Homo sapiens: one gene and its partner. The protein of the gene in region 2 purifies or fractionates together with the protein of the main gene of each other region. This does not show direct contact. Each region holds a gene or a part of one and is shown on either strand. Other genes may lie near its edges.

Region 1 (4,547 bases), on a different chromosome or scaffold from region 2:
TCTGCATGGGCCACCGAGGGCCCAGGGAACTACCTCGGGGTCTCCCCCAGACACTGTGGATCTCCTTCAACATATGCAGCACACCGCATGCAGCCCAAGGCCTGGAAACCAGCAGTACCTGCCCTTGAGATGCTGCAGGGGCTGCCCTGGTGTGGACTCACGTGTGCTGTCTGAGATTACCTTCTCTTCTCTGTGCCCAGCAGTGTGCTGAGCAGGCAGGCCAAACCAAAATCCTTAGCCTCAGGCCCACAACTTATTGTGAGTAGGGAAATAGTAGTCTGTAGTCTCTCTTGGACCCTCTCCCTGACTCTAGAAATGTGGAGATTAGGGGTAGAATTATATATATTGGCTTGGTTTTTCTGACAAGATCTTGGCAAAGAAGAAGGGTGTTTCCCCAACTCTTGGGATCTGGAGCATGGGCCCCTCCCACTGTCATGGGCTCTGCCTGCTTCCACTCAGTTGGGCCCAGGCATGGAGTCTTCTCCCAGGCCTCCAGGGGGAGAGGAGCAGCAGCCACTTCTCACTGGTTAACAGCATCTGCACAGCCACCAGGGCACATACCTCCTTTGGCAGCCCTTGAGGGGCTGTGTTATCTCTGGGGCAGGGCTTTCCTTCCCCTGGTGGGTCAGGCCTGGTTGAGCATGGTGGCACTCACCAATGATTTCACATCTTTTGTGAGCATAAATGAGGGCCATGGTGGAGCACAGGGACACGTCTGGGTGATGCCTGATGCTTTCCAGGTCACTGATGGCATCCTGGATGTGCTCTGCAAAGACAGTCCACATAGTTATACTCTCAAGCTCCAGGACTAGAGGACATGAGACTCTGTAGCTGACCCAACAGCTCAGCACTACTACCTGCTGGACTAACTGGTCTGAAAGGTCCCCAGTGACCCAAGTTCCCTGAAGATTGGGGCTCTTTGAAAGAGTTGCTGGTAACATGGTCCAGGCTGTTAGGGGCTGGAAATCTTGGACTTGAAAGGTTCACCCTGTGAGTACTTGTGGGGATATGTGTGAGGCTGCAATTATTAGCTGCGTCAGTTCTGAAGAAGGACCTCAGGCAGGGCATTCTCAGCTACTGCTCAAGAGCCACTGATTACATTTATCCCTCCATGTCCTCAGACATTTGGCCATGGGCTATTCTGCCAGTCCTCAGCCTAGGACCACCTTCTGAATGTCAGCCCATCTGCACCTGCATGGGTCTCACTCCTCTCCCTGTACCTGTACCATACCCACCTGTCCTCACACCTACCTCTTCCCCCTCCTTTGCCTGCATTACCAGTTCTCAGCTTCCAGGCCTGGAATTACTTCAAGAATCATGCAGCTATCTCTCCAACCACTCATTTTACAGAGAGGGAACCCGAGGTGCAGAGCAGGGATAGTCAGCGCTCTGAGGTCTCAAAAGTCAACTAGATATGGATTACGTAGGCCTCTGTGGATTCCCGTGGGAATCCAGCCGCTGAGTGTGAAACTGTTTTTATGGGACCATAACTAGGATACAAGAAGGCATCCAGGTGGAGCCAGAGTGTTAGGGCCCAGCTAGTGCCTGGGGTCACAAGACCAACACTGCCAAGTCCTTACCTTCTTTGAGGACTCCATAGGCTTTAAAGAACTTCAACACAGGGTCATTGCTGAATTTTTCCAGGCCCACAGCTGCAGCCTGCTGCACATGGTGGAAGTACTTTTCCTGGCTATAGTAAATGATCCCAGCCTGTATGAAGGAAGACATAACTGCAATAGCCCAGTCCCTTCTCTGTCTCTGTTCTGTCCCAGATGGGATGAGACCTGCTCCCTTCCCTATCCCCTGCTCCTCCTCAGTTCTGCAAAGGGAAGAGAAAGAGGAAACATTCAGGCCTCATCCTGTCCTCTAACAGCCCTGGGAGCAGCTCCATGCAGTTTTCCCAGGAAAGAGTTTGGAGGTGTTTGTTTGGGGGATTACCAACAGATTCTGGTTCAACTATGATGGGGAATTCAACCAAGGCTTTGTCTTAGGAAGGGAATAAGGGGGGAAAAATGAGGACAAATAATAAGAAAAATTATACGAATTGTAGTTACAAGTTATTGTGGGCTTCATATCCACTATCCTGTGCATGGTCCTCTCAGTATCTTTCACAGCTAAGGAAGCTTAAGCCCATGGAAACTACAGCTTGACAAAGGGGCTGAGATTTTAAAGTTAAGTTTCACTTCCTCTAAGGTTTGTGGGTGCTAGGTTGGGAGCAGATGTGGTTGGACTGTAAACATCCTCATGGGCCATATGAAAGAGCCCAGACACCATCCTAAGGGTAACAGAAAGCAGAATGGTTTTAAGGCGAGGGATGTTTTCAGATGTACATTTTTGCAACAACCACTCTGGCTGCTTTTGCATGTGGGGGGTGTGTGCCGTGGTGGCAGCAGGGACTACTGATGCTGAAAAGAGCCACAGCAGAGAAACCAGATGGGAGGGAGGCTGTTGCAGGCTCTCAGGGGGGAGAGATGGTGCTGGTTCTGGGCTAGAAGATAAAAAGATAAAAAGAAAACCCAGGAGACATCAAGGAGCTGGCATTTCTTGTAGACAGGATTAGAAGATGAGTATAGGGAAGAGGTATGAGTTAAGGCTAGGAGATTAAATGGTGAAGCCATCAACTGGGGTGGGAGGCGCAGGCGAGAGTGAGCTGGGTGGAAGAAGGGATGATGACAAGAAGGGATAATGATAGTGATTGGATGAGCTGGTTTGGGGTAGCTCAAGAAACGGGGATGCTAATTTGGGGCTCAGGGTGCGCAGAAGCCACCGGAGAAGACGCCCTTGCCAGGGGGAGTGGGGCAAGAAAAGGCAGGACCGCCTGATATAACTGAGGACAGCGAAGGGTGGCAGGAGAGTAGCAGGGCAGACGGTCTCTGGGTCAGGGGCGGGGAGTCACGAGGGAGCCCTCGGACAGCGCCCGGGCCACGCACCATAAGGGAGGAGTCATTGCTGCTCATCTCGGGCCGCTCGCGGCTCCGAGTCCGGGTCTGGTGGGGCGGTGCAGAGCGGGATTCCCGAGGCAGGGTCGTGGGCACTCTATCGCGGCGGGCGGTTGAAGGCGTTACAGTCCTTGGAAACCGAGCTGCTAGCCGGTTGCTAGGAGCGTCCAGTGTCTGGAGTGGGAGGAACAAAACGCCTCACGTCACAAGGCGCAGGAATCGAGCGCCGAGAGAGCGAGTCGGTGCTACTGGCGTCGGGTCGGTCCGGGTAGGCGCAGCGGGACTGGACCTGGGTGCCGAGCGGAGCCGCTGCCATGGGCCTGGGCGTCAGCGCTGAGCAGCCCGCAGGCGGCGCCGAGGGCTTCCACCTCCACGGGGTGAGTTGCCGCCGCGGCGCCGGTGACCTTGGCGAGGCGCCCGCAACCCCGCGCCCGGGCGTCCGGTCGCCGGCTGGCTGGCGACTGCGGCGGGGTCCCGGCCCGAGTGTTTCCGCCTGGGTGGCGGGAGGTGCCCCCTGCCCGGTGGGAGCCTCCTGGGAGAGGCGGCCTCGCGGGACTCCCGGACCCTGGCTAGTCCGCGGCCGCGGTCGGGCCCAGCGCCCGCCCCAAGTGCCAGCAGTGCCGGAAGCGGAGCGTTTTCCTGGTCCGGCCGCCGGGAATGGCGCTCCTCCCGGGTGAAGAATGCACCACTACCAGTCGGGACGCACTCGTGCACTTAGCACACATTTACGCTCGCCTGCCGCGGGCCGCTCTCCGTGCTGGGCCTGGGAAGAGAGTCAGCCACGCCGAGGACAGTCCCGGGGGCCGGGGTTAACCGAGTGGACGCAGCTGCGGGGGAGCCCGTCGGCGCGCGTCCTGCCAGTCGTAGGGTCGTAAGGGCTTCCGAGGGTAGAGGACCGGTGCAAACCAGCCACGGGATAGTGGGGAGCGGGAGGGCCGGGAGAGTGCTGCAGAATCCTCGAGGAGAGCGTTTGCAGCTGGGGAGGGTCCCAGCCTTTAGATGCCGCTACATGGAGGTCTGGGCGAGCAGGCTTCCGGAGAGTGGAGACGGAGTGGGGTTCCTAGAACGGAGTGTGCTGTGAGGGTGAGGAGAGGGTCCCGCAGCCGGATGGAGATTTGTGCCTGCGGTGAGGGAAGGGCTATAATGTAGGTGAGAGGGGCTGGGGGTCTCTGACCCCGGAGCGCTGCGGGGAAGAGGCGTCCCTGCACCCCCCCTTTCCCTAGTGAAAGGCAGCTGGATGCAGAGATGAGTGGAGACAGGCAAGCTTGTCGGTTTGTGTGTTTTGAAGGTAGGGTCTGTTGCCAGCTAACCACATGAGAGGGCTAAAAGTTTCTTAACGTGAAAACCAGGCTGGCTTGGAGAACCCAGAGTTGACAGGATTTGTGCTTGGGAATGGGCTTTCTTATGGTGAGACACCAAACAGCAAGCGTGGACAGTGGAATGCATCCAGCCAGGAGCGTCTTCCAACAGGTTTGATTAAAGGCAAAGGAACTCAGGATATTGGCAAGAGGAGGGGTGGGGCGATGATGGGAGCTTCGAAGACGGGAGGGGCCTGCCTGATGGAGAGGGACAAATTGGAGAGGGACCAGGGATCAGAGGTTGTCAGTC
Region 2 (2,475 bases):
TGTTTCTCCCTCTGCCTTTAAGAGAACACGGGGGTCATAGATAGCATTGTACAGACGTGTACCTTGCCAGGGCTGCCAGGGGAATGCAGGCTCATGGGGAGGATTGAGGGGACAGAGATGTGTGTGTACAGATTAGTGTGCCATAGACTAAGCACAGCAGAGGCAAAGAATGCCATCTAAGCTCTTGTCGCTCGGAGTGTCCGAGGATCATCACCATACAGGTCACCCAGGAGCTTATTAGAAATGCACAGTCTCATGCCTCACCCCAGACCACAAATCAGAACCCGCATTCGAACCACATTCCTAGGTGACTCCCAGGCACATTATAATTCAAGAAGCTCTGCTGCTTTTACCTGCACCGAGGCCTCAGCCTTCAGACCACTCCAGGAAGCCACCTTTTCACATCCCCACACCCCCACCCGACACTCTGTCACCTGGATCTTGCCCATTTCCTCCCTGGCATGTCCCTTAGTCCCTTAGGTCTGCACATCTGCCCTTCCTCATTGGCCAGCTCTAGCACAGATCACTGTGTTCACCTTGGCAGTCCCAAGTCCTTGCACACTGCCTGCCTGAGAGCAGGCTCCAAGCTGAAGGCTTCTCGAGTCAGTGGACGAATGGATACGTGATCTACATGGCAGAAATAAAAGCCTGAAGTTTGCAGAAGGTTAGGTGTTTATTTGCACTGCTTTTATACTGTCTACCAGGTTAAAAAAAAAAAACAGAGACTCTTTTGAAGGCATAGATTTTAGATATCAACCTCAGACTGTGGCATTTGGGATTTCCAGAGCATGTCGTTGAGGCACTTTTGTACCCAGAGGCACATGGAATTTACCAGGCTGTGGAGATGATGTGCTCTCGGGATGCTGCTGCCAGTAGCCTGGTGAGGTAGGGAAGACAGCAGTGGACGCACAGTCAGGGCCCAGTACACAGCCCGCCTGCCTTTCGTGTGATTGTCCAGCAGGTGGCACCTGTTCCCTCCTGCCACCCACCTTATAATTGCTTCCCTCTTGAGCACCTTCAGCCAGAGGTGGGTGGGAAGGGGAGGACGTGCACTGGGTTCTGCTATGTGCCAGCATCTTTGGTATAAGGAGCCATTCCCTGGCCCAGGGCAGGCAGCCAGTACCCACCGGGGTTGGGGATCATTGGTGGGTCTCCATTGCCCATGCTCTCCCTGCCTCTCATTAGTAGGGAATCGATGGGCCCTTGTTATGCCAAGGCAATGCTAAAATCTCTGCTTTACCTGCCCCCTTCTCAGCAAGGCTCTCTGTGGGCCACAGCTGATGCTCCATCAGTGCCAATTTATGAGACAAGTTTCTGCCGCTCAGCCTTGGCACAGCAGATGGAAAATACCTGCAGGAAGAGCTTCCCCGGCATGGCCTTCCCTGCATCGGTCATGTGCCTAATGAGCTATCCTTGCAGTGGGCTCTTCTCCTGCTTTTCACTGAAGAACCCTTATGTGCTGCATAGACATGAGCTCATGAAACCTCCCTGGCGGGGGGGGGGCAGGGGCAGCCTCATCTGTGACATTCTCTCTGGGCAGCCTTCACTGGCCCTACTCTCTTCCTTCCATCAGAAGATGGCTTTGGGCCCAGGAGACTCATGAAGACCTCACCCTCTTTGTCTTCAAAGATGCTTTTTCTGTGGCAGATCAACCTGGTTCTGCAGAGGGTTGGGGGCTCAGCCGAGAACACCTGTTTCTTCACAGGGGAAGTAAGCTAGAGTCAGTAGGGAGCAGCAAGGATGGCCTGTGACTGGAGGACAGACGTCCTGTGGCCCCGGCGGTGCTCTTCCCTCTTGTGCTTTGGGGCAGCAGCATTTTAGGTTTGTAGCTTTGGTGGAAAAGTTGCTCCCCACTGTTTTGAAGTGTAATGCCCCATGAGGAGGAAGTTGGAGCCAGTGTGGTTTTCTGGGTCCTCTGCCAGAGGACATTTGGAGTCCCCAATATTTTTCCTCAGGACTGACTTCGTGAAGACAGTCCTTCAGCCCAGGCAGGGCTCAACTCTGACGCCCGGGGAGCTTTACTCCCTAGAGTGTTTTCTCTTGCTCTCCCCCTTGGGCTGATTTCTAAAGGGTCTGCTCTAGGCCTTCCTGGGAGTCATTCAAACTGAAGATGGAAAGGGTGAGAAGGCACAGTGGTTTAAAGGACGCTCATCGCCAGGTTAAAGGAGGGAAGGAAATTACACTTGTTCCCAAGCCAGGCTCACTAATGGCTCTGGAAAGGAGGTGACGTCACTCTCACAGGAGGATCCATTTGCAGGCTCTATGGTGACTTCTGACTTTCAGGGAAAATGTCTCCCCCACTCAGCAAGGATGAGGTGGAGCAGCTTCAGCCCAATCCCTCCATCCTCCCACCACCGGGCAAAGGACCAGGCACAGACTCCAGGCCGACTGCCTGATTTTCCTCCTCCCCAGGCCTCCTGCTGCTGCCCCAGGTGGAGGGAAGAGACCAGCCGCTGCTCACATGCTCCAGGGATG

What was found.
Region 1: the proteins of STEAP3 (region 2) and TTC21A purify together in Homo sapiens (affinity purification with mass spectrometry; one large-scale study listed by BioGRID and IntAct). This does not show direct contact.

Annotation. Positions count from the first base shown.
Region 1 is NC_000003.12:39,106,248-39,110,794, reverse strand, and holds the start of TTC21A (tetratricopeptide repeat protein 21A), read right to left. Parts: upstream 3,116-4,547; 5' UTR 2,958-3,115; coding exon 2,931-2,957; intron 1,711-2,930; coding exon 1,581-1,710; intron 767-1,580; coding exon 656-766; intron 1-655. Other genes in the region: GORASP1 (Golgi reassembly-stacking protein 1), read left to right, coding at 4,332-4,409. UniProt on the Homo sapiens protein: Intraflagellar transport (IFT)-associated protein required for spermatogenesis. Required for sperm flagellar formation and intraflagellar transport.
Region 2 is NC_000002.12:119,263,832-119,266,306, reverse strand, and holds the end of STEAP3 (metalloreductase STEAP3), read right to left. Parts: 3' UTR 655-2,475; downstream 1-654.